Homo sapiens: one gene and its partner. The protein of the gene in region 1 binds, or shares a complex with, the protein of each later gene. Each region holds a gene or a part of one and is shown on either strand. Other genes may lie near its edges. A codon is read from its position in the direction of its gene.

Evidence for each region.
Region 2: the proteins of UNG (region 1) and RPA2 are in contact, whole or in part, in an NMR structure (PDB 1DPU), measured with the Homo sapiens proteins. Residues at the interface, in NP_550433.1 of Homo sapiens: Arg73 (codon at 8,439), Ile74 (codon at 8,442), Asn77 (codon at 8,451), Lys78 (codon at 8,454), Ala81 (codon at 8,463), Leu82 (codon at 8,466), Arg84 (codon at 8,472), Leu85 (codon at 8,475), Arg88 (codon at 8,484); in NP_002937.1 of Homo sapiens: Ser250, Asn251, Glu252, Gly253, His254, Ile255, Tyr256, Ser257, Thr258, Val259, Asp260, Asp261, Thr267.

The regions. Positions count from the first base shown.
Region 1 is NC_000012.12:109,090,078-109,106,074, forward strand, and holds the start of UNG (uracil-DNA glycosylase), read left to right. Parts: upstream 1-7,519; 5' UTR 7,520-7,602; coding exon 7,603-7,734; intron 7,735-8,094; exon of another isoform or gene 8,095-8,249; coding exon of another isoform or gene 8,250-8,354; coding exon 8,355-8,561; intron 8,562-9,111; coding exon 9,112-9,207; intron 9,208-11,824; coding exon 11,825-11,922; intron 11,923-12,761; coding exon 12,762-12,850; intron 12,851-13,355; coding exon 13,356-13,534; intron 13,535-15,997. Other genes in the region: DNA oxidative demethylase ALKBH2, read right to left, coding at 1-130, 2,430-2,709. UniProt on the Homo sapiens protein: Uracil-DNA glycosylase that hydrolyzes the N-glycosidic bond between uracil and deoxyribose in single- and double-stranded DNA (ssDNA and dsDNA) to release a free uracil residue and form an abasic (apurinic/apyrimidinic; AP) site.
Region 2 is NC_000001.11:27,896,807-27,912,696, forward strand, and holds part of RPA2 (replication protein A 32 kDa subunit), read right to left. Parts: intron 10,477-15,890; coding exon 10,375-10,476; intron 10,236-10,374; coding exon 10,122-10,235; intron 902-10,121; coding exon 827-901; intron 316-826; coding exon 199-315; intron 1-198. UniProt on the Homo sapiens protein: As part of the heterotrimeric replication protein A complex (RPA/RP-A), binds and stabilizes single-stranded DNA intermediates that form during DNA replication or upon DNA stress.

The DNA of each region.
Region 1 (15,997 bases):
ACTGGGATCCAGGGCTTTGGAGACAGCGTGAGGCCTGAAAATGTGTAGGTCAGCCCAGCGTCGCCATACGTTGCCTGCTTCCTGGGCACACTGTGCCACTTCCCGAATACCTGGACTCTGGCCAGTGCTCCTGTGCAGAGGAAACATGGCAGTTCCTTTCTACCTGACCCCCATCTAGAAATCCAGATGCCCCCCCCAACCCGCACTGCCATCACCAGAAATCCAGTGCCCCACATACATGCTCCCTGGGTATTCAAGATTGAAAGGGAAGTAAGGAATAACATTTCCCCGTCATTCCATGCAATTTAAACCCCTCTTCAATCATCATTTTGGCTTGCCCCAAATTTTCTTTTTGTTTTGTTTTCTTTGAGACAGGGTCTCCCTGTGTCACCCAGGCTGGAGTACAGTAGCACAATCTCAGCGCACTTCAACCTCCACCTCCCGTGCTCCAGCAATCCTCCCGCATCAGCCTCCTGAATAGCTGGGACCACAGGGGCGTGCCACCATGCCTGGCTAACTTTTTTGTAAGCTCACTGCAACCTCCACCTCCAGGGCTCCAGCAGCCCTCCTGCCTCAGCCTCCTGAGTAGCTGGGACCACAGGGGCATGCCACCATGCCCGGCTAACTTTTTTTGTATTTTTTTGTAAGACACAGGGTTTTATCATGTTGCCTAGACTGGTCTTGAACTCCTGGGCTCAAGTGGTCCGCCCACCTCAGTCTCCCAAAGTCTGGGATTATAGGTGTGCACCACTGCACCAAGCCAACTGCCCCAAATGTTCATGTAAGAACAGTGACTCTTGTTCTACAAGGAGAGAAACATGGTCCTGGGCCATTTTTTTAGTGAACACTGTAACTTAACTGCCTTAACTACAGTAAGGGCAGAATAAAGAGGCTGAAATTGGAACACGATAAAGTTAGTTTACAGGCTAGGATAGCTTGTCAACTGTAGGGACTAAGGGCATGTGACCCCATGAAAGATGGGGCTCACACTGCTGGGGTCTCTTGTGGGCATTTCTTTTTTTAAAGAGATGGTGAGCCAGGCGCGCTGGCTCATGCTTGCAATCCCAGCACTTTGGGAGGCCAAGGCGAGGATCACTCAAGGCCAGGAGTTCAATTAACAGCCTGGGTAACACAGTGAGACCTACAGATAATTTAAAAATTATCCAGGCTTGGTGGTGTACATCTGTGGTCCCAGTTACTTAGGATGCTGAGGTGGGAGAATCACTTGAGCCCAGGCGGACGAGGCTGCAGTGAGCCAAGATCGTGCCCCTGCCCTCCAGCCTAGGTGACAGAGCGAGACCCTGTCTCAAAGCATAAAAGAATAAAGTGACGAGGGGGTCTCACTATGTTGCCCAGGCTGGACTTGAACTCCTGGCCTCAAGTGATCCTCCTGCCTCAGCCTCCAGAGTAGCTGGGATTACAGGTGTGTACCACCGTGCCTGGCCTGTGGGCTTTCGTTTTTTGTTTTGTTTTGTTTTGAGACACAGTCTCACTCTGTTGCCCAGGCTGGAGTGCAGTGGTGCGATCTCGGCTCACTGCAACCTCTGCCTCCCGGTTTCAAGTGATTGTCCTGCCTCAGCCTCTCAAGTAGCTGGGACTACAGGCATGCACCACTACGCACAGCTCATTTTTTGTTGTTGTTGTTGTATTTTAGTAGAGATAGGGTTTCACCATATTGGCCAAGCTGGTCTCGAACTCCTGACCTCAAGTGATTCGCCCGTCTCGGGCTCCCAAAGTGCTGGGATTACAGGCGCGAGCCACCACGCCTAGCTTCCTGTGGGCTTTTCTATGCCTCTCTGCCAGATCCTTGTGTCCTCATTACAGGATAGAGGTGTGGTTCTCAACATGTGCTCCCCAGACCAGCAGCACCTGGACTCTCCTTAGAAACTAAACTAAACCACAGGGGTAGGGTCCAGCAATCCAAGTCCTGCCAACAGCAAGTCCACCAGGTGATGCTGAGAACCACTGGTGTGGAGAAATTACCTGGTTATTTGCCATCTCTCCTATGAGACCAGTGATTCTCAAACCCTGACTGCCCATGAGAATCACCTGGAAGCTTTTTAAACAAACAAGTGGTCAGCCTGCACTCGGAGCGATTCTGATTGAAGTGCTCTGCAGTAGAACCCAGCACGTTTTTTTACTTTGTTTTGTAAACTTTCCCAGAAGATACTCATCAGTAGCCAAGGAGAGATTCACTCGAGTCATCTGTCAGCTCCTAGTAGACAGGCAATCCAGTTTCTTTCAAGTTTATGTCCCAAGCACCTAAGGGGCTTAGCCCAGAGGTGCTCAGAGAATATTGGATGAATCCATTAGTGAACCCATCAGTAAATAATGGATCCTGAGTTCAGATTTCTCCAAACATACGATCATTAATTGCACCAAACAAGCCCTCAATGCACACACACACACACACACACCCCTCTGCTTACCTGTAAAATATTCTACTTCTTTCTCCAACTCTTGGAAAATCTCATCTGCCTCAGCTTTGCCAAACAGGACTGTGTAACTGCAGTCCAGGCCCTCAGCCCGAATGTGCCGCCAGCTAGGGCCTGCTGAGTGGCCTCCATTCCCTGGGGCCTCTCTCCTGGGCCTCTTCCTTGTGCTTTCTTTGTCTCCTCCCAACACAGCTGGCTCTTCTCCAGTTGGCTCTTGCTCCTCCTGCTTCCTCAAAAGGCCCCCTTGAGCCCCTTTCACCAGGAATCTGTCCATCCTGTCCCCACAGGAAAGAAGGGACGTCAGTGGCGAGGCCAAGACAGAAATTGCTCAAGTTCTATCCCCAGTGCAAAAATCTGTTTGTCCAAGGGGTCTCACAGCAACATTCCTAGTTTCACATTTTCATTTTAAAGTTTAAAACCATGTCCTAGAAAGGAAACAGAAGATGTTAAAGCCGGAAGGGACCCTAGGGACAATCTGATCCAGGGTCTCCCACGTCCACCTGTGCATCAGAATCAGCTGGCTAGCTTGCAAAAACCCAGAGGTCTGCACTCCACGCCTGAGCACCTGAATTTTTAAAGAACTACCTCCTGGGAATTCGCACGCCACAGCTAAACTTAGAAACTACAATCCAAACCCTCATTTTGCAGAAGGGGAAACTGTTGCCCACAGAGGCGAAGAGGTTTGCCCAAAGTCAACTGTCCACCCCTTTAAGGAGGAAGGACCCATAACTGACCTCGCTGCCCCCCACCAGTGTTAAAATAGATCAGTCTAGTGATGCTCAAGTGGATACGATTCAGAAGCGAGACGCAAAGAGGTTAAACACGGGTAAACCGCACGCAAAATTCTGATATCACTGCAACACGTCCGTGGGGTGGGGGTGGCAAGAGTGCTCTAGCATCGCAGCTCCGGCGCAGATCGGAATCCCGCAGTCACCCTGGTGGCCTCGTGGTGGGAAAGACGCGCCCCAGCGAATCGGTCGCGTCACTTCCGGAGCACGCTGGGAACTACGGCAGGCTAGGGCGCAAAGAGAGCAGCCGGGCGGCCCCCTGGTGCCACCTGCTGGCCTCCCGTGTGTGGCAAGCACTGCCGCTTTCCCGTTGATCACCTGTTGGGCCACTGTCGAGAATCACGGCTGGGGTGAGAACTGTGGCTTGGCGTCACTTCTCAGTGAGGGTTACTTTGGTGTCCGGAAAGGGCGTTGGGCCACCAGTATATTGTCACGAGTGGGAGCAGGAGTTCTGCAGTCGGATATCGTGGATTCTGTTTCTGTCTCCTCCGCCCTGGCTGTGTGGCCTCCCACAGGTCACTTAACCTCTCTGGGGTTAAGTTGCCTCATCTGTGAAGTGCGGACTACAGCACCTATGTCATGAGAGCGCCTGAGGAGATGACAGGATGCATGAGAAATGCTCTGTCCTCTAAATAAATGTTGGTTCCATTATTGCTCGTTTTTCTTTGTTTTCTTGTTTTTTGATGTTGTTCTTGTTTGTTTTGTTTTTTTGAGACAGGATCTCACTCTGTTGCCCAAGCTGGAATGCAATGGCATGATCATAGCTCACTGCAGCCTTGAACTCCTGGGTTAGAGCGATCCTCCCGTCTCAGCCTCTGGAGTAGCTGGGACTACAGGCACATCCCACCCCACCCTAAATAATTTTTTTATTATTTTTAGTAGAGATAGGGCCTTGCTATGTTGCCCAGGCTGGTCTCAAGCTCCTGGGCTCAAGTGATCCTCCCACCTGGGCCTCCCAAATTGTTGGGATTACAGGCGTGAGCCACCACGACCGGCTCCTAATTTTTATTTACTCTGTCTCCCCTCAATGGAACGAAAGCTCCATGAGATCAGAGGCTTTGTTTTGACAGATTTCAACAAATGTACAATATTGTATGATCACCACCACAATCAAGATCTAAGACAGTTCCGTCCCTCCATAAAACTGCTCCAGCCTCTTAATCAACTTCGCCCATCACCCAGCATCAGCAACCACTGATCTGTCTTCTCTCCCTATAGTTTTGCCTTTTCCAGAATTTCATATACAGGGAATTGCCGTGGTTTGAATATCTGTTCCTCCAAAATCCGCGTTGAAATTTAATCCTCAGTGTGGCAGTATTGAGAGGTGGGGCCTTGAAGAGGTGATTGGGACATGAGAGCTCTGTCATAATGTCCTCATAAATGAATTAATAGATTAATGGGCTCAGGGGTTAATGGGTTAATGGGTTACCGTGGGAGTGGGACTGGTGGCTTTATAAAAGGAAGAAGAGAGACCTGAGCTAGCACACTCAGGCCCCTCGCGATGTGATGCCCTACACGGCTTCAGGACTCAACAGAGTCCCCACCAGCAAGAGGGTTTTCACCAGATGCAGCCCCTCAACCTCGGACCTCTCAGCCTCTATGAGAAATGCCTTTGTGGGACTTCTTTCACTTAAGCATATTGCTTTTAAGATTCATTTATGCGCCCCCCCACCTCCCCGCTTTTTTTTGTGAGACAAGGTCTGGCTCTACTGCCTAAGCTGGAGTGCAGTTGCATGATCTCGGCTCACTGCAACCTCCACTTCCCAGGCTCCACTCCCACCTCAGCCTCCCAAGTAGCTGGGACTACAGGCATGCACCACTACACCCGGCTAATTTTTGTATTTTTTGTAGAGATGGGTTTTTGCCATGTTGCCCAGGCTGGTCTCCATAGTCTTCAGCTGGTGAGCTGAAGAAATCCGCCTGCCTTGGCCTCCCAAAGTGCTGGAATTGCAGTCATGAGCCGCTGTGCCCAGTCGTATATGCACATTTGTATTACTTATTTGTTCCTTTTTATTACTGGTATAGAAGGGATGCCCCACAGGAGTAGGCCCCACATAGGGTTGTTTCTCTGATTTTAGGTTACTATGAGTAAAATCACTATAAACATTCACATACAAGCTTTGTGAATATAGTTTTTCATTTCCCTTGGGTAAATAATGCCTAGGTGTGGGAGTGCTGGGTCATAGTGGCTCTAAGGGCAAATGATTTTCAGCTTTGAGCCTCTCTCCCTTAGACTTCAGCTTCTTGTCCTAGGCACTGGGACACACCAGCAACAAGAAGCAGCAAGTTCCTTTCTTCACTCAGGTTACATTTCGGGGATGGAGACAGAAACACACAAGGAAAGAATAAATAATATGCTGTCTCTAAAGAAATTGTGTAAAAAGAAAAAATAAATAAGATGCTTTTGTATAGTATAGCAGTTATAGAGCAATGGGCTAGAAAGTGGGGCAGGAGGAGAAGTCCTTTTCAGGGAAAGATCCTGAGCTGAGACCTGAGGCTTTCCAGGCAAGGGGACGGTGAATGCAAGGGTGTGCAGGCCACAGGGGGACAAGCTGGGTGTGTCCAGCAATTGTGCTGGGAGCTGGACTCAGTAGTGGGGGCTTCCATCAGAGAGGAGGCAGCACTGAGACCTGGGTAGGAAGCTGGGGTTTATTCTAAGCCTTTTTGAAAACCAAAGAAGGGTTTTAACCTAAGGATTGTCTTTTTTTTCTTTTTCTTTTTTTTGTTTGTAGACAGGGTCTTGCTCTGTCACCCAGGCTGGAGTGCAGTGGCACAATCTCAGCTCACTGCAACCTCCGCCTCCCGGGTTCAAGTGATTCTCCTGCCTCAGCCTCCTGAGTAGCTGGGATTGCAAATGCATGCCACCACGCCTGGCTAATTTTTGTATTTTTAGTAGAGACGGGGTTTCACCATGTTTGCCAGGCTGGTCTCGAACTCCTGTGCTCAAGCGATACGCCCCTCCTTGGCCTCCCAAAGTGTTGGGATTACAGGCGTGAGCCACCGAGCTGGGCCAGGCCCCAGGTATTGTCATGATGTAAAAATCTCTCTCTAGAAAAGAGAACACCAGCTTCCCAGCTGGTCTTCTGTAGCTAGGAGATGCAAGAGCAGCAGTTGAATTTGAGGTTTGCTTTGGAGAAAGAACCAAAAGCAGATATGGATGGTTTGGATGTGAGGGAGGGAAAGAGAATCCTAAGTGTATTAGTAGTGGTGGGAGGAGGTTCGGTACAGTGGTGTCATTTGGAAGACAAATCGTTGGTGTTTAACCTCTATGACCCGAAAGTCTCCCACAAGCCTGATACATTAGGCAAAATGTTTGACTGCACTAAGCCTTAGTTTATCGTCATAAAATAGGCCATGAAAATTGCGTGAGAAAATGTATATAACAGTTCAACAAATAATATTGGCTGGGTGTGGTGGCTCATGCCTGTAATCCCAGCACTTTGGGAGGCCAAGGTGGGCAGATCGCCTGAGGTCAGGAGTTCGAGACCAGACTGGCCAACATGGTGAGATCCCCCATCTCTACTAAAAAAATACAAAACACACTTGGGCAAACATGGTGAAACCCCATTTCTACTAAAAATAGAAAAATTAGCCAGGCGTGGTGGCGCGCGCCTATAATCCTAGCTGAGGCACGAGAATCGCTTGAATCCGGGAGGCGGAGGTTGCAGTGGGCTGAGATCACACCACTGCATTCCAGCCTGGGCGACAGAGCAAGACTCTGTCTCAAAAACAAAATACACACACAAAATATAATAGTATTTGTTTGTTTGTTTGTTTTTGAGATGCCTCGGATTACAGTGCGGGGATTACAGACGTGAGCCATCAAGCCCGGACAATATTATTATATTGTTCATTGCACTCCCACAACACCCCTAAGGGGCAGGAACTTTTCTTCCCAGCCCCCTCCCCCCGACCCCACCGAGAGACAGGGTCTCGCTCTGTCGCCCAGGCCTGGAGTGCATTGGCGCGATCAAAGCTCACTACAGCTCAGACCCTCTGGCCTCAAGCGATCCTCCAGCCTGGGCCTCCCAAAGCGCTAGGATTACAGGCGTGGGCCACCGCGCCTGACCAGTCTTCTCTTCTTGCAGCTGAGCCTTAAGAGCCTGTCCAAAGAGCAGAGGTGGGCTGAAGGCACAAAGCGAATGAAAGAATAGGCCCCCGGGCACCGTTGCACGCCCCACCTCCTCCCAGGGGCGTTGCACTCCAGCCCCTCCCGCACATGCGCACTGGGCCTTCCACCGCCCCCCGCCCCCAGCAAAGCCCCCCGCTCGGAGCATGCGCGGGCCGCTTGGCGCCAATTGCTGACCGCCACAGCCACAGCCAGGGCTAGCCTCGCCGGTTCCCGGGTGGCGCGCGTTCGCTGCCTCCTCAGCTCCAGGATGATCGGCCAGAAGACGCTCTACTCCTTTTTCTCCCCCAGCCCCGCCAGGAAGCGACACGCCCCCAGCCCCGAGCCGGCCGTCCAGGGGACCGGCGTGGCTGGGGTGCCTGAGGAAAGCGGAGATGCGGCGGTGAGGCGCGGCTTGGGCCGGGGCTAGGGGGTGAAGGGGGAGGAAGGCGGTGGGCCCCGCCTGACGGAGGGCGTGCAGGATCGCGCCTCTGACTCGGTAAACCCGGGCTCCGCTTTCCAAATAGCCTCCACGTGTTCAAAATAGCCGCCGCTGTCCCCCATGGGCCGCCATGCTAAAGGGCCAGCCAATGGGAACGCGTCTCGGGGCCCATGGCGCCAATCCGCGCGCCGCAGGCCCTCCTGGCTCGGTGCGCTGTCCAATCAGAGGGGAGAGGGGGCGGGACCCAGAGGGAGGTTTTTTGCCGCGAAAAGACCACGTGGGGACGCGGTGGGGCGGGTCTGGCGGGGGCGGGGCACCTCTGTGCAGGGTTCCCAGTCACCGCGACGCTCCTCGGGAAGCCATAGGGCGCCTCCCAGCCCGTCTCCCCGCTCCAGTTTAGAACCTAATTCCCAATTCCCGGACCGGGCCCAGCCCTGGGCTCTTACTGTCCGCTTTTGCTGGGACCTGTTCCACAAATGGGCGTCTTCTGCCTTGGGCCGTGGGGGTTGGGCCGGAAGCTGCGGACGCCTGGGAAGGGGCCGCTGCAGCTCTTGAGCCGCCTCTGCGGGGACCACTTGCAGGCCATCCCAGCCAAGAAGGCCCCGGCTGGGCAGGAGGAGCCTGGGACGCCGCCCTCCTCGCCGCTGAGTGCCGAGCAGTTGGACCGGATCCAGAGGAACAAGGCCGCGGCCCTGCTCAGACTCGCGGCCCGCAACGTGCCCGTGGGCTTTGGAGAGAGCTGGAAGAAGCACCTCAGCGGGGAGTTCGGGAAACCGTATTTTATCAAGGTAAATATGGAAATGCACCTTCCATAAGGGTAAATGTGGAGGCTGCCGGCCCTTTTGTCTTGTTAGTGTAGCCGGCCAAGTTCATGTTTCCGTAGGCTTAGGTTGTACCCCCTTCAACCTCCTTTACTCACAAAGGGGGTAAAAGAAAGCCATGATGTTTCACTCTGCAGCTTTATATTGGTTAAAGTTGTTAACGACCCGCGAGATGATATCATGGATTCATTTAAGTCACATAGTCTATTGTCCAGGAAAGGCTGGCGTAGTAAAATCACCAACCATCCTGAATGAAACCTGGCTTGAGCTTTAAAAAGCCGAGAGGAGTGGCACTGTCAGGACCCAGCCCAGAGAAAGAGGCAAGGAATTGACCTGATTGAACCACTTAGGTGGGGGGGCAGGCACTGTTTTTGTTTGTTGTTTTTTAAAAGAATTTGGACATAACATGACAAAGAACTAATGATGTTCCAAATAACTTGCACTAGAAGCTTTCTTATTGAATTCTTATGGTTTCCAATGAGAATCTGATTTTAAGTCTAGTTTATCTTTAAATCAGCTAATGGGATTTGTTGCAGAAGAAAGAAAGCATTACACTGTTTATCCACCCCCACACCAAGTCTTCACCTGGACCCAGATGTGTGACATAAAAGATGTAAGTACAACTTGTTGATAATTTTTATTGGGGAGAAGGAGTCAAATAGTATTTTTAAATTAGGGACACTGGAGTTAAGCCACAGTCCATCATTCAGTAGTAAATAAAACACTGAAATCCCGAGGTTTGGCTGACTGTATTTCAGCCTGTATTTACTCTTTTTAATGTTTACCACGTGGTATTTATGTGGCAAAAAGGAAAACTATGTACATCCTGTGCTCTTATTTCTTGTATTTTTTTTAAATCCTGAAACTAACCTCCCGCGGTGTCAGATGTTATGGTGGTGGTGAAGTTCAAACTGACACACAAAGCAGTTAAATCTTTTGCAGCTTGTTATAGTCAACCCCACCTTGACCTGACCACACTGCCTTATAGTTAGCACTTTCAAGCTCTTGACTTCTGGCCTGAACAGTTTTGTGGTTCTGTTATCAGATCCCTTTGCTTTAGTTTGTCTTATATAACAGTTGCTGGTTGGCGGCTCTCATCCATCTTGTGTTCAGAAGTTCGTGGGGCTGGGCACGGTGGCTCATGCCTGTAATCCCAGCACTTTCGGAGGCCAAAGTGGGAGGATCATTTGAGGTCAGGAGTTCAAGACCAATGAAACCTGGTCTCTCCTAAAATACAAAAATTAGCCGGGCATGGTGGCGCACGCCTGTAATTCCAGCTACTTGGGAGGCTGAGGTGGGAGAATCGCATGAGCCCAGGAGGCGGAGGTTGCAGTGAGCTGAGATCACACCACTTCACTCCAGCGTGGGCGACAGAGCCAGACCCTGTCTCAAAACAAAAAAAAAACCGTGGCTTCTCACTGTTGAACTATGAAAGCAGAGCAACCCTCTTTAAATAGGGCCACGTCCTACCTCTCAGCCTTACCTCCACCTCCCACTCTCCCACTCCAGAGTTGGACAGTGTGGCAAACCCCTCCCCACTTCTGTCTCTTAAAAATCAAGTAGATGCCTCTGTGGCACCTCCTTGAATTGAAGTCCGTTGCCTGCCACCTCTGTGATCCAGTTTTCCTCTGAGCTGCTACGATGCATTTAGCACCTGCTGACACTGGACTTTTAGGTTTCTTACCCGTTTTCCTCCCCCGTTTTGTAAACTGGGGCAAGAATCTTGTGATTTAATGAATATCTGTGAAATGACATAGAAGTGAAATAGGTGAATAAATCATCTTGATAAGGCAGCCACACCTAATACTTAGAAAATCTCGTAAGCTTAATTTTAGAGTAAGAATTTAGAATCTAGCTCTTTGGTTTTGAAGCTAAATTAAATCCTATTAAGATCAATACTAATTTGCTTCTTGTTTGAATGCCCTATTCTGAATACCAGTAATCAGTATAAACAGGGAATATTAAAAGGAATATTTTGAGGGAATGCTCAAAAACCAGTTTCAAACCTATGAGGATCAGATGGGCCAGCAGGGCTTCTTGACAGACCAGCATTGGGAGAGTTGTTTCACAAGAGAATATGTTGGCATGGTGTGAACACCAAGGGGAGGGACAAGAGGTCCCCAAAAGCCTCCTGGTCATGGAACATCTGGAGCTGGATTCTGAAAGATAGAGTATGTCAGCTGTGGAGGAAGATTCTAAGAACGCAATGGCAGAAGCTTGAGAATGAAGACTAGGTGGGTGGGCCCTGGATGGGAAGGACGAGGCGGCCTATGTTTCAACACCTCCCGTGACAGGAACTTCATTTCATTTCATTGTCTCTTGCCACCTACTCCCATGGCCCTTTTGATCTGACCTCATTCTCTTCTGGCTCCACCTGTTAGAGGATATAGGGGAGCAGACACCCTCATATGCTGCTGGTGGGAAATCTGAATTGCTTTTTTTTTTTTTTTTTTTTTTTTTTTTTGAGATGGAGTGCAGTGGTGCAATCTCGGCTTACTGCAACCTCCACCCCCTGGGTTCAAGCGATTCTCCTGCCTCAGCCTCCCGAGTAGCTGGGACTACAGGTGTGCGCCACCACACCCAGCTAATTTTTGTATTTTTAGTAGAGATGGGGTTTCACCATGTTGGCCAGATGGTTTCGATATCTTGACCTCGTGATCTGCCTACCTCGGCCTCCCAAAGTGCTGGGATTACAGGCGTGAGCCACCATGCCAGGCCCTAAATTGCTTTAATTCATCGAAAAGTAACTGGGGGCTAGGCACAGTGGCTCATGCCTGTAATCCCAGCATTTTGGGAGGCCGAGGAGGGAGGATCCCTTGATCTCAGGAATTTGAGACCAGCCTCAGCAACATAAGGGAGGCCGTGTGTCTACAAAAAGTAAAAAAAAAATTAGGTGGGCATAGTGGTGCACTCCTGTGGGCCCAGCTACTCTGGAGGCTCAGGTGGGAGGACCACTTGAGCCCAGGAGGGCGAGGCTGCCATGAGCTGTGATGGCACCACTGCACATCAGCCTGAGCAACACAGCAAAACCGTGTCTCAAAAAATTAAAAAAGCAGCTAGGTACATATCTTTACAAGTTTAAAATACGCTTAGCCTTTGACCAGCAACTCTGCTATTAGCAATCTATGCCATAGAAGTGTTTTATTTGTTTTGTTTATGTTTGTTTGAGGCAGGGTCTGTGCTGCTTACATTACAGTATTGTTTAATTCCTGACCCCTGGTGGTTCACAGGTGAAGGTTGTCATCCTGGGACAGGATCCATATCATGGACCTAATCAAGCTCACGGGCTCTGCTTTAGTGTTCAAAGGCCTGTTCCGCCTCCGCCCAGGTACAGTTGCTTTACAGGTGACTGCAGTCCAGACATGATTCCTTTCAGATGTGTACTTAGCTTATTACAAGTGGGACTATCTGGGGCACTGTTCACTAGCCTTGGAGGAGGATTTCTCGGCCTCAGCACCATTGACATTTGGGGCTGAGTCATTCTTTGTTGTGGAGGAGGAGAGGAGTCCTGTGCTATTGCAGGATCTTGTGCCACATCCCTGGCCTCTACCACTGGAAACCAGGAGCAACCCCCAGCTCGTGATAATGAAAAATGTGCAGACATTGCCAAAAGTCCCTTGGGGGCGTAAAATCACCCCTGGTTAAGAACCACTGCTTTGGGCCGGGCGCGGTGACTCACGCCTGTAATCCCAGCACTTTGGGAGGCTGAGGCAGGAGAATCGCTGGATCCCGGGAGGCGGAGGTGGCAGTGAGCCGAGATCCTGCTACTGCACTCTAGCCTGGGTGACACAGCAAGACTGGAAAAAAAAAAAAAAGAACCACTGCTTTTGGAGGATTTGGTGTATGATATACATAAATATGCTAAGGACAGAAAACTGTCCCTGAGCAACAGTGGGGGTCTGGGTTGTAACTGCTGGGTTGATTTACTTAGGTTTTCCAGAGTGCTGTTAAATCCAAGTACAGACTAAAGTAAAGGTCTTTGGCAGAGTCACCTGTTAGAAGGAGGACTGGCAGTGTTGATCTCATTAATCGGCGCCATATGTGCCAGTGTCCCTTCCAAGGGCTGGCTGTAACTTCTAACCTTTTCACATATGTCTTAGACGTTACTGAGCTTTCAAAATTATGCTTAAGATTCTGTTTTTTGTTTTTCTTGTGGCTTGCTTTCAGTTTGGAGAACATTTATAAAGAGTTGTCTACAGACATAGAGGATTTTGTTCATCCTGGCCATGGAGATTTATCTGGGTGGGCCAAGCAAGGTAAGCCAGCGACTGCTAGATTTTTTTTTTTTTTTTTTTTTTGAGACCGAGTCTCACTCTGTTGCCCAGGCTAGAGTGCAGTGGTGCAATCTCAGCTTACTGCAACCTCTGCCTCCCAGGTTCAGGCGATTCTCATGCCTCAGCCTCCTGAGTAGCTGGGACCACAGGCATGAGCCACCATAGCTGGCTAATTTTTTAATGTATTTTTAGTAGAGACAGGGTTTCACCATGTTGGCCAGGCTGGTCTCGAACTCCTGACCTCAGGTGATCCGCCCGACTCGGCTTCCCAAAGTGCTGGGATTACAGGCATAAGCCACCACGCCCAGCCCCGACTCCATTGTTGATGGTAGTGGCTGCTGCCATTATGCCGGCTGCAGCAGGGAAGCACAGCTTGCTACACTGGATCCCATCAAGCATTGGTTTCATCATGGATTTAGCTCCTGTTGCTGGGTATTGGGCTGATTTGCCTGAGCCTACATTTAACCTGTTTCTCTCATGTGTATAGGTGTTCTCCTTCTCAACGCTGTCCTCACGGTTCGTGCCCATCAAGCCAACTCTCATAAGGAGCGAGGCTGGGAGCAGTTCACTGATGCAGTTGTGTCCTGGCTAAATCAGAACTCGAATGGCCTTGTTTTCTTGCTCTGGGGCTCTTATGCTCAGAAGAAGGGCAGTGCCATTGATAGGGTATGTTTTGTTTTCTTTCTTTTTTTTCTTTTTTTTTTAACACTATAAAAACAATGTAAAGAATTCTAGGAGTCCCTGCTGTGTTTGGTCCTGGAAAATCCATGTTATAAAATAACTTTTATTTTCCCTTAGGCCTGTTATAAGGGTTTCCCATTGAAAACTGAGAAGAATTTGGACAAATTATAGGGGTGATGAGTTGTGTATGAGGAAAGCAAAGCAACTGGCCAACTTGTGACTGAATGCAGTTGGTGCTGTAGGCATGAACTTGGTGTCTACAAGATACAAGTCCCTGGGTACCATTCACTTAACAAGTGATGGATGAGGCATGTTTCTGGCTTCCAAGAAATTTGGGAACATATAGAAAACACAAAGAATTCCACTCAATCACAAATTTAACTTGCCCATGAAAATACTATCAGTGATCATTATTGTTTTGTTTCTGGGTTTTTTGTTTTTTGATGGAGTCTCGCTCTGTTGCCCAGGCTGTAGTGCAGTGGTATGATTTTGGCTCACTGCAACCTCCGCCTGCTGGGTTTAAGTGATTCTGCCTCAGCCTCCCGAGTAGCTGGGACTACAGGCGCCCGCCACCACACCCGGCTGATTTTTTTTTATTTTTTAGTAGAGACAGGGTTTCACCATGTTGGCCAGGCTGGTTTTGAACTCCTGACCTCAAGCGATCTGTCCTCCTCAACCTCCAAAGTGCTAGGATTACAGGCATGAGCCACCACACCCGGCCTATCGGTGATCATTATTAACCCCAAGGTCTAATTGCAGATACCCAACACGACCAAACCAGTGGCTCCCCTCCCTACATCTTCCCCCTATCTGCTACCTCCCTCTTTCCCTTCACTCACTGAAGCACTTCTACACCTGGTTGTGGAAATCAGAGACCTAAAAGTCATCCTTGAATCCTCCATCCCATCAGTAAATCCCATCAACTCTGCCTCCCAAAACACCCCAGTCTACTGCTTCTCATTCGCCACTGCTGCCCTTCAGGCATGAGTCACCATCATCTTTCTCCAGGAGAACCGTGATGGACTAGAGATGGAGGCTTGATGGAGAGCCGCAGAGTGGAGGAGGGAGAGATAGGGGGTGGGAAGGAGACGAGCCAGGGGTGTGTTCATCCCTGGCAAATGGGAGAGACATTGGGTGGGGGAGAAATTATAGAGTAAATGCTTCAATGATCGAAGGCAAGGGCTTAGCAGAGGTAACCTGACAATAGTTTTTGGTGTATCAGCAGGAGGTAACGGGGGTATCAGAAATGTGCACGTATATTTAACCCCTACCTTGTGTGGGTACTAGGTTGAGCACTTTTGTTTTTTGAGATGGAGTCTTTCTGTCACCCAGGCTGGAGTGCAGTGGCATGATCTCGGCTCACTGCAACTTCGCCTCCTGGGTTCAAGCACTTCTCCTGCCTCAGCCTCCTGAGTAGCTAGGATTACAGTTGCCTGCCACCACACCCAGCTAATATTTTTTATTTTTAGTAGAGACTGGGTTTCACCATGTTGACAAGGCTGGTCTTGAACTCCTGACCTCAAGCGATCCTCCCATCTTGGTCTCCCAAAGTGCTAGGATTACAGATGTAAGCCACCGCACCCGACCAGGTTGAGTACTTTGCATGCAGAATCTTACTTAACTCTCAGAAAGGCTTTGAGGTAGGCATACACTTGTATGAGTGACCTAAGATCTGACTGGTATGAACTGCTAAGATGTGATCATCTAGGTATGTAAGAAGTGTGCGTGAGAGTAATTGCTAATCTCTATCCCTTAGGGAGGTTTACGGCCAGTGTTGCTCTTCCGCAGTATATTGGTAATCTTTAATCATGGTTTGGTCTGAAAGTAAACAGTTGTTAAAGTAGCTTGGTCATTAAAGCCAAATTGCATATCTCCAGCCCAGTGTCTCTTCTGATCTATAGAGTGCCTTGTTACTACTGCCCCATGAACATGCCAAATTCAACATTTTCCAAACGAAGTTTCTCCTTTTCTCATCCATGCTTCACTAAACTTCCTCCTCTGCACTCCCTAGCAGCAAAAAGCACCATCATCTGCCCAGTTGTCCAGCCAGATCTATTACTGACACCTGCCTACCTCTCTTTCTCCCCTCTTCTGTCCTTTTTTTCCACCTTCCCAGTCAGTCAGTCATTCATATCTGTGTTCTTTCTTCCCCCTCCAAATCTACCCCTGCCTGACCACCTTTGCCTTCATTCAGGCCCTCACCTGATCTTGCCTGGAGGGTTCTGATGCTTTCTCCCTGGAAGGCCTTGCCTTAGGCTGAAGATCTGATTTCAGGGGGGTAGAGGGGTGGCCCCCAATCGGCCTCCCAGACTTAACTCTATCCCTCTTTGCACTCCGATCCCTAGGCTGACCCATTCCCCTTTACTTTTTCACGGTGCCCCACTTCCCTGCCTTTGCATATCCTGCTTTCTCTGCCTACAGTGTAGAGGTCATTTTCTTCTGGGATTC
Region 2 (15,890 bases), on another chromosome or scaffold:
CCTAATTCTGAGAGAAACATGAGTGTTTCATCTGGAATAAAATACAATGACAAAGCTAATGGAGAAAGTGTTCTGAGGACTTAGTGATGTCTTTCTCTGGCTCGGCCTTCAAAATATCAAGGAAATCAAAGCTGGAACACAAAAGTAGCCTGTGTTCTTCCAGGGAAGAGAAAAAGCTAGGAAAGCGAGACTACTCACCTGGCTGTTGGCTTTGCTTAGTACCATGTGTGCATTGATCACTTCCAGAATATGTGTGGTGAACTCATTCATATCCTCCAGGGGCATGATCTTAAAGGCTACCAGGCTCTTTTTGTTCTATTAAAATGAAGGAAAAAAATGTGAATAAAATATGAACATACATTAATTTCAGGTCAACACTGTGGCTCTTTCCTTGGTTATAATATTAATATTTCACCAATATGAGAAAAATGTTATATACTCTCAGAGGTATTCCAAATATGGTCAAACATGAGGAGAAAAAAAACTAAAACTAATAGCTAAGGGACATTAATAATTTTCCCAAGATTGCATAACCAAGCAAAATCTAGACTCCTGACTCCGAATCTAGTGTTCTCCTTTCTCCAACTAATGAACGCCACAGATAGCAATTGTAGAAGGAGATTCTGTTCTTTCTTTACCATTCTGTTAATTTCATGTTAAGGTTAAAAAAAAAAAAAAGAAAAGTTATTTCCTTTTGAAGAGAGTAAGAAATAACTTCCCATTAAACAGGGAGACTTAAGTATTTTAACTATCCAAAAGCCATGACATGAATCTAGAAACTGCTTCATGCAAAAACACTTTAACTGTTATTTTATTCTGACTTTACCTGAAAAGATCTCAGGTGGCCTGCCACTTTCACATATGTTTCTGGAGGAACCACAGTGTTTTCACTGCTGGTGTCCTAACATAAAATACAAACATGTCATTAAAGTTTTAGTGATGCTGGTAAAAGCCTCTTTAACGTTTCTATATTATGTATAGAAAGAGAAAGTTACGAAGTAGAAGAGTTAAAGGATCCTAAAATGGCATTAAGTAGTTTGCCCTGCCTTTTACAACTTATTTTGTAAAACCAGGAATTAGAATAAAAATATCTCTAAAGGTAATTATCAGTTCCAAAGTTCTGTAGCACATCATAAAAAAGCAAACAATTGTGACACTCTCGTTCAAGCTCTTAGGCACACAATTTTCTTTTTTCTTTTTTTGAGAGGGAGTCTCGCTCTGTCACCCAGGCTGGAGTGCAGTGGCACGATCTTGGCTCGCTGCAACCTCCGCCTCCCAAGGGAGGGTTTGAGTAATTCTCCTGCCTCAACTTCCCCAGTAGCTGGGATTACAGGCGCCCGCCACCACGCCCGGCAGGCACACAATTTTCTGGTGGATATACTTATTGGCAAAGCAATTCTACTTTTAGGAATTTAAGGAAGTAATTAAGAACATGCATTAAGATTTAGATTTATCATAGTATAGAATATTAAAAATTTTAAAACAACCTAAATATCCAACATAAAGTACACATTTCTATATAATAGGATACTCCACACTGTTGCAAATGATAACATAGAATTCTATTTACTGCCTGGAAAAACAAGTCATGATACATGGAAAAAAGCTGATTTCCCATTTGGGACAATACACACTAAACTGTTTATAATGGTTGACTAAGATAATTAAAAACGATTTTAATACTTATCAGTTTCCTAGAATATGCACACATTATTTATAAGAAAAATACATTAGCTGATTTTTTTTTTTTTTTTTGAGACGAAGTGTCTTGCTCTGTCACCCAGACTGGAGTGGAGCGGCATGATCTCGGCTCATTGCAACCTCTGCCTCACAAGTTTAAGTGATTCTCCTGCCTCAGCCTCCCAAATAGCTGGGACTATAGGCGCCTGCCACCACACCTGGTTAATTTTTTTGTATTTTTTTTGTATCTTTAGTAGAGACGGGGTTTCCCCATGTTGGCCAGGATGGTCTCGATCTCCTGACCTCATGATCCACCCGTCGCGGCCTCCCAAAGTGCTGGGATTACAGGCTTGAGCCATCGTGTCCGGCCCATTAGCTGATTTTTAAAGTTCTTTTCTGACTACATAAAATGTATTACTTTAAAAAAAATTGAAAATATATCGGGGTATATGGACTCACACCTGTTATCCTAGCACTTTAGGAGGACAAGGCAGGAGGATCCTTCGAGCTCAGGAGTTTGAAACCAGCCTGGGCAACATAGTGAGACCTCGTCTCTAAAAACAAACAAAAAACTAGAAAATATATGCTTAAAAATAAAAACTCTGGCCAGGTGCAGTGACTCATGCCTGTAATCCTAGCATTTTGGGAGGCCAAGGCGAGCAAGTCACTTGAGGTTAGGAGTTCGAGACCAGCCTGGCCAACGTGGTGAAACCCTGCCTCTGTTAATAATACAAAAAAAAGGGTGGGCACAGTGGCTCACGCCTGTAATCCCAGCTCTTTGGGAGGCTGAGGCGGGCGGATCACGAGGTCAGGAGTTCGAGACCAGCCTGGCTAACAGGGAAACCCTGTCTCTACTAAAAATGCAAAGATTAGCCAGGTGTGGTGGTGGGTGCCTGTAGTCCCAGCTACTCGGGAGGCTGAGGCAGGAGAATCACTTGAACCCAGGAGGCAGAGGTTGCAGTGAGAGACTGTGCCACTGCACTCCAGGCTGGGCAACAGAGCAGGACTCTATCTCAAAAAAAAAAAGAAAAAAAAAAAAAAAAAACCACACAAACAAAACAATTGTATTCCCATATACAACATTTTGAATCCACTTGAGAAAAGATCTCTACCTCAACTCCTTTTATCAAAATATATTCCATGTAGATCATAGGTTTAATTATAATAAAAGAAACCATAGAAATAATATGAACAATTTTTTTCTTTTTTTTTGAGACAGAGTCTCGCTCTGTCGCCCAGGCTGGAGTGCAGTGGTGGGATCTCAGCTCACTGCAAGCTCCGCCTTATGGGTTCACACCATTCTCCTGCCTCAGCCTCCCTAGTAGCTGGGACTACAGGCGCCCGCCACCACGCCCGGCTAATTTTTTGTATTTTTAGTAGAGACAAGGTTTCACCCTGTTAACCAGGATGGTCTCGATCTCCTGACCTCGTGATCCGCCCGCCTCGGCCTCCCAAAGTGCTGGGATTACAGGCGTGAGCCACGGTGCCCGGCTTTTGTATTTTTAATAGACAGGGTTTTGCCACATTGACCAGGCTAGTCTTGAACTCCTGACTTCAGGTGATCCACCCGCCTCCGCCTCCCAAAGTGTTGGGATTACAGGCGTCAGCCACCGAACCCAGCTGAGATTTATTTATTTGGTTTTTTGATAAGGTCTCGTTTTATCATCCAGGACGGATTACAATGGTGGGATCTCGGCTCACTGCAGCCTGTGCCTCCCGGGTTCAAGTGATTCTCCTGCCTCAGCCTCCTGAGTAGCTGGGATTACAGGCATGCACCACTGTGCCCGGCTAGTTTTTGCATTTTTAGTAGAGACGGGGTTTTACCTTATTGGCCAGGCTGGTGTCAAACTCCTGGCCTCAAGTGATCCACCTGCCTCAGTCTCCCAAAGTGCTGAGATTACACGCATGAGCCACCGCACCTGGCCAACAGCTCTTTTTTAATCTGAAGTATATATTGGGTGGCTGCTTAAGATTTTTTTTTTTTTTTTGAGATAAGGTCTCGCTCTGTCACCCAGGCTGGAGTGCAATGGCACAATCTGGGCTCACTGCTACCTCCACCTTCAGTGGGGCAAGTAACAGCAGATGTGGTGGAAATAGCAGGAGAACTGGAATTAGAAATGGAGCTTAAAGATATAACTGAATTGCTGTAACTTTATGGTAAAACTTGAGTGGATGAGGAGTTGCTTCCTTTTTTTTGAGACTGAGCCTCACTCTGTTACCCAGGCTGGAGGGCAGTGGCACAATTTTGGCTCACTGCAACCTCCATCTCTCAGGTTCAAGTGATTCTCCTGCCTCACCCTCCCGAGTAGCCAGGATTACAGGCATGTACCACCATGCCCAGCTAAATTTTTTATTTTTAGTAGAGACGAGGTTTCACCATGCTGGCCAGGGTGGTCTCAAACTCCTGACCTCAAATGATCTATCTGGCCGCCTGGGCCTCTCAAAGGAGTTGCTTCTCATGGATGAGCAAATAAACTGGTTTCTTGAGATGGAATCTCCTCCTAGTGAAGATGCTGTGAACATTGTTAAAACGACAATAAAGGATTTAGACTACTCCATAAGTTTAGTTGAGAAAGCAGTAGCAGGGTTTGAGATTGAATCCAATTTTGAAAGAAGTTATACTGTAAGTAAAATGCTATCAAACAGCATGATATAATATCGAGAAATTTTATGTGAAAAGGAGACTCAGTTACTCAGGCAAACTTTGTTGTCTTATTTCAAGAAATTGCCACAGCCAGCTCAACCTTCAGCCAACTACCACCCTCCTCAGTCAGCAGCCATCAACAGTGAGGCAAGAATGTCCACTAGCAAAAACATTATGAATTGCTGAGGGTTCGGATAACTGATTATTACAATTTGTTAGCCATAAAGTTTTTTTTTTTCTTCTTTTTTTGAGAGACAGTTTCGCTCCTGTTGCCCAGGCTGGAGTGCAATGGCGCGATCTCAGCTCACTGCAACCTCCACCTCCTGGGTTCAAGCGATTCTCCTGCCTCAGCCTCCCAAGTAGCTGGCATTACAGGTGCCCACAACCACACCTGGCTAATTTTTGTATTTTTAGTAGACAGGGCTTCACCACATTGGCCAGGCTGGTCTTGAACTCCTGACCTCAGGTGACCCTCCCGCCTCGGCCTCCCAAAGTGCTGGGATTATAGACGTGAGCCACCGCGCCCAGCCACCATAAAGTATTTTTTAACTAAAACAAACAAACAAAAAAAACAAACTTTGGGACTAGTAGAAGCTTCCGAAAGGTAAACTAGAAAAAACTGCACAATTTATTTTTCAAAATTATTTCTTTTTGAGATAGGGTCTTCCCATGCTGCCCAGGCTGGTCTTGAAATTCTGGCCTCAAGTGATCTTCCTGCCTAAGTCTCCTGAAGTGCTAAAGTTACAGGTGTGAGCCACTGTGCCTGGCCTCATTATAAGAGGTCACTATAATCATTTTCAAGTTCTTGCAAACAAAAACACTGTTAGGGGAAGGGGAATCAAAGAGAAAATTTACAAAAACCCCACAAATTGACATTAAACATAGTAAAAAAAAAAATACATATATATGGCTAAAACCAAAGAAATACACATAAAAAAATGACAAAATTTTCACTGAAAAGACTATTTTTTTCTGAGATGGAATATTGCTCTGATGCCCAGGCTAGAGGGCAGTGACGCAATCTTGACTCACTGCAACCTCCATCTCCCAGGCTCAAGCAATTCTCCTGCCTCAGCCTCCCGAATAGCTGGGACTACAGGCACGTGCTACCATGCCCTGCTAATTTTTTAATTTTTTTTATTATTTTTACGTATACTTTTTTTTTTTTTTGAGACAGTCTTGCTCTGTTGCCCAGGCTGGAGTGCACTGGTGTGAAGATCTCCGCTTACTGTAACCTCTGCCTCCTGGGTTCAAGCGAGTCTTGTGCCTCAGCCTCCCGAGTAGCTGGGACTACAGGCGTGCACCACCATGCCAGACTAATTTTTTTATTTTTAGTAGAGACTGGGTTATACCATGTTGGCCAGGCTGGTCTCAAACTCCTGACCTCAGGTGATCCACTCATCTTGGCCTCCCCAAAGTCCTGGGATTACAGGCATGAGCCACCGCACCTAGTCAAAAAGACTATTTTTTAAAACAACTATCACACTGGCAAAAATTTAAGACAAAAACCCATTGTTATAAAGGGTATGGAGGATAGGCACAGAGGCTCACACCTGTAATCCCAGCACTTTGGGAGGCTGAGGTGGGAGGATTGCTTAAACCCAGGAGTTTGAGACCAGCCTATTTCTTAAAAAAAAAAATGTTAAGGGTATGGAAACTAACTGGGCACTCTCATGCATGACTGAAGCGTAAACTGGTACCTTTAGAGAAGACAGTACAAAAATGCAAAAACTAAGATGTTAAAAAAATGTCAAATGTGTATTTCCCCCCAGAAAACCTACTTTTAGGAATACATCTTATGATTATTTTATTTTTTTGAGATGGAGTTTTGCTCTTGTTGCCCAGGCTGAATGCAATGGCACGATCTTGGCTCACTGCAGTCTCTGCCTCCCAGCTTCAACTGATTCTCCTGACTCAGCCTCCCGAGTAGCTGGTATTATAGGTGTGTGCCACCACGCCCAGCTAATTTTGTATTTTTAGTAGAGATGGGGTTTCACCATGTTGGCGGTGCCGGTCTTGAACTCCTGACATCAGGTGATCCACCTGCCTTGGCCTCCCAAAGTGCTGGAATTACAGGCGTGAGCCACGACGCCTGGCCTTACGATTATTTTATAATCATGAAGAAATGTATGCAAAGATACTCACTGGAGCATTGTATATAATAGCAAACGACTGAAAAGAAGTTAAATGTTGTTCCCTGACTGGGTCCACTGTTAAGTAAGGGATGATGTATTCTTATAATGGAATCGGTGGTCATTTAAAATGATAGATGTAAATCTTTACAGATAACATTAAAAAATCAGTTCTTGGCTGGGCCATGGTGGCTCAAGCCTGTAATCCCAGCACTTTGGGAGGCTGAGGCAGGATCACCTGAGGTCAAAAGTTCGAGACCAGCCTGGCCAACATGTTGAAACCCCGTCTCTACTAAAAATACAAAAATCAGTTGGGTGTGGTGGTGCACGCCTATAGTCCCAACTACTCGAGAGGCTGAGGCAGGAGAATCGCTTGAACCCGAGAAGCAGAGGTTGCAGCGAGCCAAGATTGCACCAATGCACTCCAGCCCGGATAACACGAGTGAAGCTCAGTCTCAAAAAAAAAAAAAAAAATCAGCTCCTCACCAGGCACGGTGGCATCAGCCTATAGTTCCAGCTACTTGGGAGGTTAAGGCCAAAGGATCACTTGAGCCCAGGTTTGAGGCCAGCCTAGGCAGCAAGCCAAGACCCTGTCTCTATTTAAAAAAAAAAAAAAAAAAAAAAAAGGCCAATGGCTCATGCCTATAATCCCAGCACTTTGGGAGGCCAAGGCAGGTGGATCACCTGAGGTTGGGAGTTCGAGACCACCCTGACCAATACAGAGAAACCCTGTCTCTAATAAAAATACAAAATTAACCAGGTGTGGTGGCACATGCCTGTAATCCCAGCTACTCTGGAGGCTGAGGCAGGAGAATTGCTTGAACCTGGGAGGCGGAGGTTGTGGTGAGCTGGAGATCGCGCCATTGCACTCCAGCCTGGGCAACAAGAGCACAGCTCCATCTCAAAAAAAAAAAAAAAAATCAGTTCCACAACATAATTTTGAGTGAAAAGAGCAAATTACTTAGCAGTTGCATAGCATATTATCCCTTCTACAGTAAAAGAGGTATGTGGACACCTGTATGTACATATATGCAGAGACAGATGTCTGAAAGGGTATTTTCCAAAATGTGTCGTAATAGTAGTTCTTTAAGAGACATGAGATGTCAGGTGATTTTTTAAATGGTTTATAAGCAAGCATAGTGCATTTTATATGAACAAGTAGTATTAGGTATCCATAGTATCTACCTCCCTGCTTGATGGCAGGGACTGTGTCTACCTCATTCTTTTTATACCTGGAACCAAGCACAGTCTAGTTCAGAATTGGTACTCCAACAATAACTGCTGAATGAATTATCCTTTATTTTTCTGAGAAGGAAAAAATTTAAAAATTACATAACTACCAAGTTATTTCTCTATAGATAACTTGTGGTTTTTGAAGGAGAACCGCATTTTTTTTTTTGAGTCAGTCTTGCTCTGTTGCCCAGAGCAACAGAGCAGTGCGCAATCTGCTGGAGTGCAGTGGCGCAATCTTGGCTCACTGCAACCTCTGTCTCCTAGGTTCAATCAATTTTTCTGTCTCAGCTTCTGGGTAGCTGGGATTACAGGCACCCAGCTCATTTTTGTATCATTAGTAGAGATGGAGTTTCATCACGTTGGCCAGGCTGGTTTCAAACTTCTGACTTCAGGTGACCCGCCAGCATTGGCCTCCCAAAGTGCTGGGATTACGGGCGTGAGTCACCATGCCCAGCCTAAAACAGTCTTTATTATCCAAATTTTCTGTAATGAATGTATTTCAAAAACAAAATACAAAACACCAAGAGGCCTTCTGCACAATTGAAAAATAAAAGGATAAAAAGTATATACTGTATTTCAGTCTATTTTATCCATGTTTATAAAGACACTTATATATATGCTGCTTTGTAAAAATTGGGTCAAATCCTGCATACCACATTGTAATATGCTTTTCTCAACAATTTATGGCAAACACTTCTTTGTGGCAATACACGCTTTTCTGTATCATTTGTAGTATGTTATAAATGTGTCATGGTTTACTTAATAATCCTTTATTGCTAGTATTTTGAGATTGCTTTATTTTTATTTATTCATTTTGAGACAGAGTCTTGCTCTGTCGCCCAGGCTGGAGTGCAGTGGCATGATCTCGGCTCACTGCAACCTCTGCCTCCCAGGTTCAAGCAATTCTCCTGCCTCAGCCTCCTGAGTAGCTGGGATTATAGGTGCGCAGAACCACGCCCGGCTAATTTTTGTATTTTTAGGAGACGGAGTTTCACCTGTTGGCCAGGCTGGATTCGAACTCCTGACCTCAGGTGATCTGCCTGCCTTGGCTTCCTAAAGTGTTGCGATTACAGGCGTGAGCCACTTCACTGGCCTAAATCTTTGTACCTGTCTTTAATTCTTTCCTTGATGTAAACTCCTAAGCTGTGGAGTTCTGCTAGGTCACCACTGTTTGTCTTTTTTTGTTTTGAGGCGCAATCTTGGCTCACTGCAAGCTCCGCCTCCCAGCTTCATGCCATTCTCCTGCCTCAGCCTCCCGAGGAGCTGGGACTACAGGCGCCTGCCACCACACCCGGCTAATGTTTTGTATTTTTAGTAGAGACAGGGTTTTACCGTGTTAGCCAGGATGGTCTTGATCTCCTGACCTCGTGATCCGCCCACCTCGGCCTCCCAAAGTGCTGGGATTACAGGCGTGAGCCACCATGCCAAGCCAAAAAGGAGCTTTATATTAATTAAAAATTTAAATGTTTGTAATATGTTGCAAATATTTTCCACATTCATTTAAACAATACTTATTCCAGGACCACTATGTGACTAGCACTGCTCTAGGTGCTAAGGCTACAGCGGTGACCAAGATAAAAATCTTTGTTCTAGGCCGGGCGTGAGGGCTCATGCCTGTAATCCAATCACTTTGAGAGGCTGAGGAGGGTGGATCACCTGAGGTCAGGAGTTTGAGACTAGCCTGGCCAACATGGCAAAACCCCATCTCTACTAAAAATACAAAAAATTAGGTGTGGTGGCGGGTGCCTGTAATCCCAGCTACTTGGGAGGCTGAGGCAGGAGAACTGCTTGAACCTGGGGCCCAGAGGCTGCAATGAGCTGAGATTGCGCCATTGCACTCCAGCCTGGGTGACAGCACAAGATTCTGTCTCAAAAAAAAAAACCAAACAAACAAACAAACAAAAAAGCAGGGGCTGGGTGTGGTGGCTCAAGCCTGTAATAATCCCAGCACTTTGGGAGGCCAAGGTAGGTGGATCACAAGGTCAGGAGTTCAAGACCAGCCTGACCAAGATGGTGAAACCCCATCTCTAGTAAAAATACAAAAATTAGCCGGGCGTGGTGGCAGGTGCCTGTAATCCCAGCTACTTGGGAGGCTGAGGCACAGGATCGCTTGAGCCCGGGATGCGGACGTTGTAGTGAGCCGAGATTCCACCACTGCACTGCCTGGGCGACAGAGTGAGACTCTGTCTCAAAAAAAACTTTGTTCTAATGGAACTTAACATTCTACTGTCTCCTGTCATTTGACTTTTAATTCTGTTTTTGGTATATTGGGAAGGTATATAGTCAAATCTACTAACCTTTTACTTTAGAGTATCTGTCTTTGATGTCTTTTTGTATTATTTTTATAAGAAAAAACTTTAAAAAGACTAAAAAAGTTCAACATCTCCACAGTTCCAAAGTAACCCCATCATGATTCAAAAACAGCCACTTACATCTGTGTCAACCCACTGGCGAACGTCCATGGGTGCAGCTGTCATGTCATCTATTTTGTAAACAATGTTGGTTGGAGCCTTCTCTGCATGTCTGATGATCCCCACAATAGTGACCTAGGTTAGAAGAAACAAAGAAAAAAAAAAAAGGTCTGGTTCCCCCTGAAACCAAGGCTACATTTTTGTATTTTTTAATGAAGTCTTATTTCATTCTTTATTATGAGTAAGTGATTCTTTCACAAATTATTTGACATACCTGTGAAATCTCAACATTCCCAATTCTGAACACTTCATCAACCAAAGTGGCAGAAAGCAGCTGAGATATAGTACAGGGCACAATGTGCTGGGCTCGGGCTCTCTGAAAAGAAAAAACATGCAAAATTCAATTAAGAAAGTAATAACTACCACTCATTCAACACCTGCCATGTGCCAAGTACTTTAAATATATTAGAACATTGAATTTCAAAACAAATCTCATTATCCTTGCTTCAGAGAGATGGAAACCAAGGTCATATAGCAAACCAATACCACACTTTTAGAATCCAAACCCAGGTTTGTCTAACTCCAGAGCTCCTGCTGAATAGATACACATGTTGCTCTGAGAATTCACCAAAATGAATAGGTCAGAGTGGGGGACAGGATAAGGAAGAATGACCTGCTGCTGCCAGAACAGACCTTCAAGAGGAAACCCCAGCTTTAGGGTGTAGACAGGCTGGTGCTGCTGTTCAGGTCACTGACAAAATGAGATGGTATTGGGAAAAGGTTTGAGAAATGACTAATGGAGACAGGACTTTGGAATTGCTTGTAGGTCTTGTGATGAACTGTAAAAGGTAGAAGAATAGCTTCTTGTAGGACAGATTTTTTGACTATCAAATGGAGCTCCTGGGGAAATGGAGTAAGAGCTTGGCCATGTTGGACATCTTTTTAAATTTTTTTTCTTTGAGACAGAGTTTCGCTCCTGTTGTCCAGGCTGGCATGCAATGGCGTGATCTCAGCTCACTGCAACCTCCGTCTCCCGGGCTCAAGCGATTCTCCTGGCTCAGCCTCCTGAGTAGCTGGGACTATATGTGCCAGCATTTTGCATTTTTAGTAGAGATGGGGTTTCACCATGTTGGCCAGGCTGGTCTGGAACTCTTGACCTCAGGTGATCTGCCCACCTCAGCCTCCCAAAGTGCTGGGATTACAGGTGTGAACCACTGCCCTCGGCCAAATTTTGTTTTGAGATGGGGTCTTGTTCTGTCACTCAGGCTGGAGTGCAGTGGCATTACAGCTCACTGCAGCCTCAAACTCATGGGCTCAAGCAATCTTCCTGCTATAGTCTCCTGAGTAGCTGGGACTACAGGCACACCACCACATCCAGTCAATTAAAAAAACATTTTTTTTTTTGTAGAGATGGGGTTTTGCTATGTTGCCCAGGCTGGTCTTAAACTCTTGGTCTCAAGTGATCCTCCGACCTTAGCCTCCCAGTGTTAGGATGACACACATAAACCACTGTGCTGGACTCATGTTGGACGTCTTAGGGGGAAGAGGCAGGATAGGGTAGGCAGAACAGTATCTAGTGAGCACACTCAAATTATATCTTTTTTTTTGAGATGGAGTCTCACTCTGTTGCCTAGGCTGGAGTGTGGTGGCGCGATCTCAGCTCACTACAACCTCAATCTCCTGGGTTCAAGCAATTCTCCTGTCTCAGCCCCCCCGAGTAGCTGGGATTATAGGTGCACGCCACCATGCCCAGCTAATTTTTCTATTTTTTTCTAGAGATGGGGTTTTGCCATGTTAGCCAGGCTGGTCTCGAACACCTGACCTCAGGCAATCTGCCCACCTCGGCCTCTCAAAGTGTTGGGATTATAGGCGTGAGCCACCGCGCCAGGCCCAAATCATATCTTAAAGCAGCCAGACAACAGTGTAAACTTATTTTTGCCTACCAGTGGCAAGAGGTAGTCTGGGTAACATGAAGATGAATATGATGGGACAGGATTTACCCTCAACATATTCCTAATCTAGGGGAGGTACAAAGGTAAACAATAAACCTGATCTTGATACACTGTAAAATGAAACATGCCATGTGGGACCTCAGAAAAGCTTACTGGCAAAAGAGGGAGGCTTTAGGCTGAACTCTGAAGCACGAGAATTTCAACAGCGAAAAAGTAGCAGGTAACAGGCTGAGGGCAAGTATGTACTCCCAGTCTCCTAGAGGGAATATGTACAAGGCACAAAAACGATGAGAGCTCTTCCTGTCAGAAGCCAAGAGGAAGTGGACCAATACCTGTACTACATGGAAGACTTAGAACACAGTAGACTCTTGGCCTTCATGGATTTAGCAGTCGCAACTCTGACCTGAACATCCACGACACTGCCAATATTTCATTTTGCTGAAGCATGATTGTGAATGGTGAGTATTGCCACAACAGGATAAAGCAAGCTCAGTCAACCGCTGGCACATATGCCACAAAAGGCAGCAGCCAAGCTTGAGGGTTAAGATTGTGGCTCTATTCTCAAGAGCAGCTGCTTGGCCAGGCGTGGTGGGTAACGCCTGTAATCCCAAGGCCGAGGCGGGCAGATCATTTGAGGTCAGGAGTTTGAGATCAAGCCTGGCCAACATGGCGAAACCCCATTTCTACTAAAAATTTAAAAAAAAAATTAGCCAGGTGTGGTGGCGCATGCCTGTAATCCCAGCTACTGGGGAGGCTGAGGCAGGAGAATCACTTGAACTCGGGAGGCGGAGGTTGCAGTGAGCCGAGATCATACCATTGCACTCCAGCCTGGGCAACAGAGACTCTCCTCAAAAAGAGAAAAAAAAAAAAGAGCGGTCGCTCTTGGTCACATGTATTAACTCATTTGTACCTCGGTTTCCTCATCTGCAAAACTAGGAATGATATTATAAAAATTACATGGTAAAGGACTCAGAATACTACCCAGCACAAAGCACTCAATAACAAATTTTAGCTATTATTATATTAGCTATTGTTCCTCATTCTTTACATTTGCAATAGCTTTTAATAACAACGTTGACAGGATCAACTTTTTCAATTTTACTTTATGGTATTTTATAGGTAAAGTTACATGCTATGTTAATATTTATAGTCTTAAAATTTGCAGGGGTCCCAGGATTTACCTCTCACAAACTACTATATTTCTGTTTTTACCTATCACAGCTGAGATTTTCATTGTATCTTCAGCATAAGAAAACTTAAGAACCAGTAAGGTAAAGTGGCAAGAACATGAGGTTTGGAGCCAGAGAGTCCTGTAGACCCATGCTCAAATCCCAGCTCCAAAGTCCTGGACACATGACCACCTTTTCTGAAAACTGGGGATATACACCTCTTAAGTTGTAAATGAGACACATAACATATATGAAGTGCTAATACCAATCTCTACATGTAGTAGATGTTTGACAAATATTATTACCTCTCAGGTAAAAATGTTACATATAGGTAACAGTTGAGATGTTAACAATGCCTTCAAATTCATCTCAAATCAAGTATTTATTTTTTATTGAGCATATATTTTATGTAGGAATTGATCACAAGGAATTCCTAGTCTGCTCCAAAGAGGTTCACAAAGTGTCAATAAAAATATGCTTAATTTTGGAAAAACAAAAACAAAAACACTTTCAAACTAAAAAAATTTTCATAGCTGACTATGAACCACAGACTACTCTGACAGTACTTCAGGAAAGTACCATTATTACAGATTAAAATTGGGTCGCTATTTGAAACTTCACATGGTTCAATCATATTGAACAAATACATAATCAACAGGAAACATTTTGGATAGAGTTCTTTATCACCCAGGGATGGTGCTGCACACCTGTAATCCTAGCTACTTGGGAGGCTGAGATGGGAGGATCCCTTGACCCCTGGAGTTAAGAGTCTGTGGTAAGCTATGACTGCACCACTGCACTCCAGCGGGGGTGAAAGTGAGACGGTCTCAATTTTAAAAGAAAAAAAGAATAGGGCGTTTACCTAACTTTTAACTGTGGAAAATACTAGATTTAAAAACAAAACAAGGCCAGGCGCAGTGGCTCATACCTGTAATCCCAACACTTTGGGAGGCCAAGAAGAGCAGATCGCCTGACGTCAGGAGTTTGAGACCAGCCTGACCAACGTGGCAAAACCCCGTCTCCACTGAAAATACAAAAATTGGCCAGGAATGGTGGCATGCGCCTGTAGTCACAGCTACTCGGGAGGCTGAGGCAGGAGAATCGCTTGAACCCAGGAGGTGGAGGTTGCAGTGAGCTGAGATTGTTCCACTGCACTCTGGCCTGGGCAACAGAGAGACTGTCTCAAAAAAAAAATAAAAATAAAAACAAAAAGACTGTCCGGGTGTGGTGGCTCATGCCTGTAATACCAGCACCACGGGAGGCAAGGGTGGGAGGACTGCTTTAGCCCAAGAGTTTGAGACCAGCCTGGGCAACATAGTGACACCCTGTCTCCACAAAAAGAAAAAAAAATTCAGAGACTGGGATTGAGTCTCCAACTTACAAGCATTATTCTCTGAAAAGCTATCTTAATACCCAGCTTTTAGGAATTCTGAGATAAAAATTATAATAACCAGAATGGAGAAAAATAGTTAAGCTTGGGAAGAAAAGATGAGAACCAATCATCTACCTTGTTTTCTCCTTCACAACCTCAAGAAAATCAGAATAGAGAATTAAAGTCCCTTGAGATCTTCTAGGAAAGAGAAAACTACAACAGGGAGAAGTTGCTGCTCATCAGATGTTGGATTTGTTCAGCATCATGTGCGTACTGTCTGATTCTAGTTCCTTACTAGCTATGTAAGCTTAGGCAGTCCCTTAATATACCTGAGTCTCTGTTAGTATGCTGGAATAAACAATAAATTCCTTACAGAATTACATAAAATAATTTATATGAAAGTTATAAAGCGGCCGGGCACGGTGGCTCACACCTGTAATCCCAGCACTTTGGGAGGCCGAGGCGGGCAGATCACGAGGTCAGGAGATCAAGACCATCTTGGCCAACATGGTACAACCCTGTCTCTACTAAAAAAATACAAAAAACTAGCCGGGTGTGGTGGCGGGCGCCTGTAGTCCCAGTTACTCGGGAGGCTGAGGCAGGAGAATGGCGTGAAGCCGGGAGGCAGAGGTTGCAGTGAGCCCAGATTGTGTCACTACACTCCAGCCTGGGCGACAGAGTGAGACTCTGTCTCAAAAAAAAAAAGAAAGAAAGTTATAAAGCAATGTCCAAATATACCAGAATATCATTGAGTTTTTTAACTTGCTTACACTGAATCTTAACATATCTGAGTGATTCCTAAAGAGAAGTCAAATTAACCTCACATTTATAAAATGAAATTGCAGTTGTTAAATGCAAACTCAGCTGGGAATGGTGGCTCACACCTGTAATCTCAGCACTTTGGGAGGCTGAGGTGGGTGGATTGCTTGAGGCTAGGAGCCTGAGACCAGCCTAGCCAACATGGCCAAATGCCACCTCTAAAAAAAAAAAAAAACACAAAAATTAGCCTGACACCGCAGTGAACATAGGTAGTACCAGCTGCTAGAGAGGCTGAGGTGGGAATGATCACTTGAGGCATGGAGGTCCAAGCTGCAGTGAGCTGTGATCACACACCACTGCTCTCCAGCCTGGCAGAGACCCTGTCTCAAAAAAAAAGGCAAACTCATTTCAGAGTGACTAAACATTTAGACAGCTTTCTATAGATTGTTTTCCTACACATTGCCTTACTCATCAATTCTCAGAACCACCCCGTGACATGAGTACTACCAGTATCATCAGATGAGAAAAACCAAGGGCC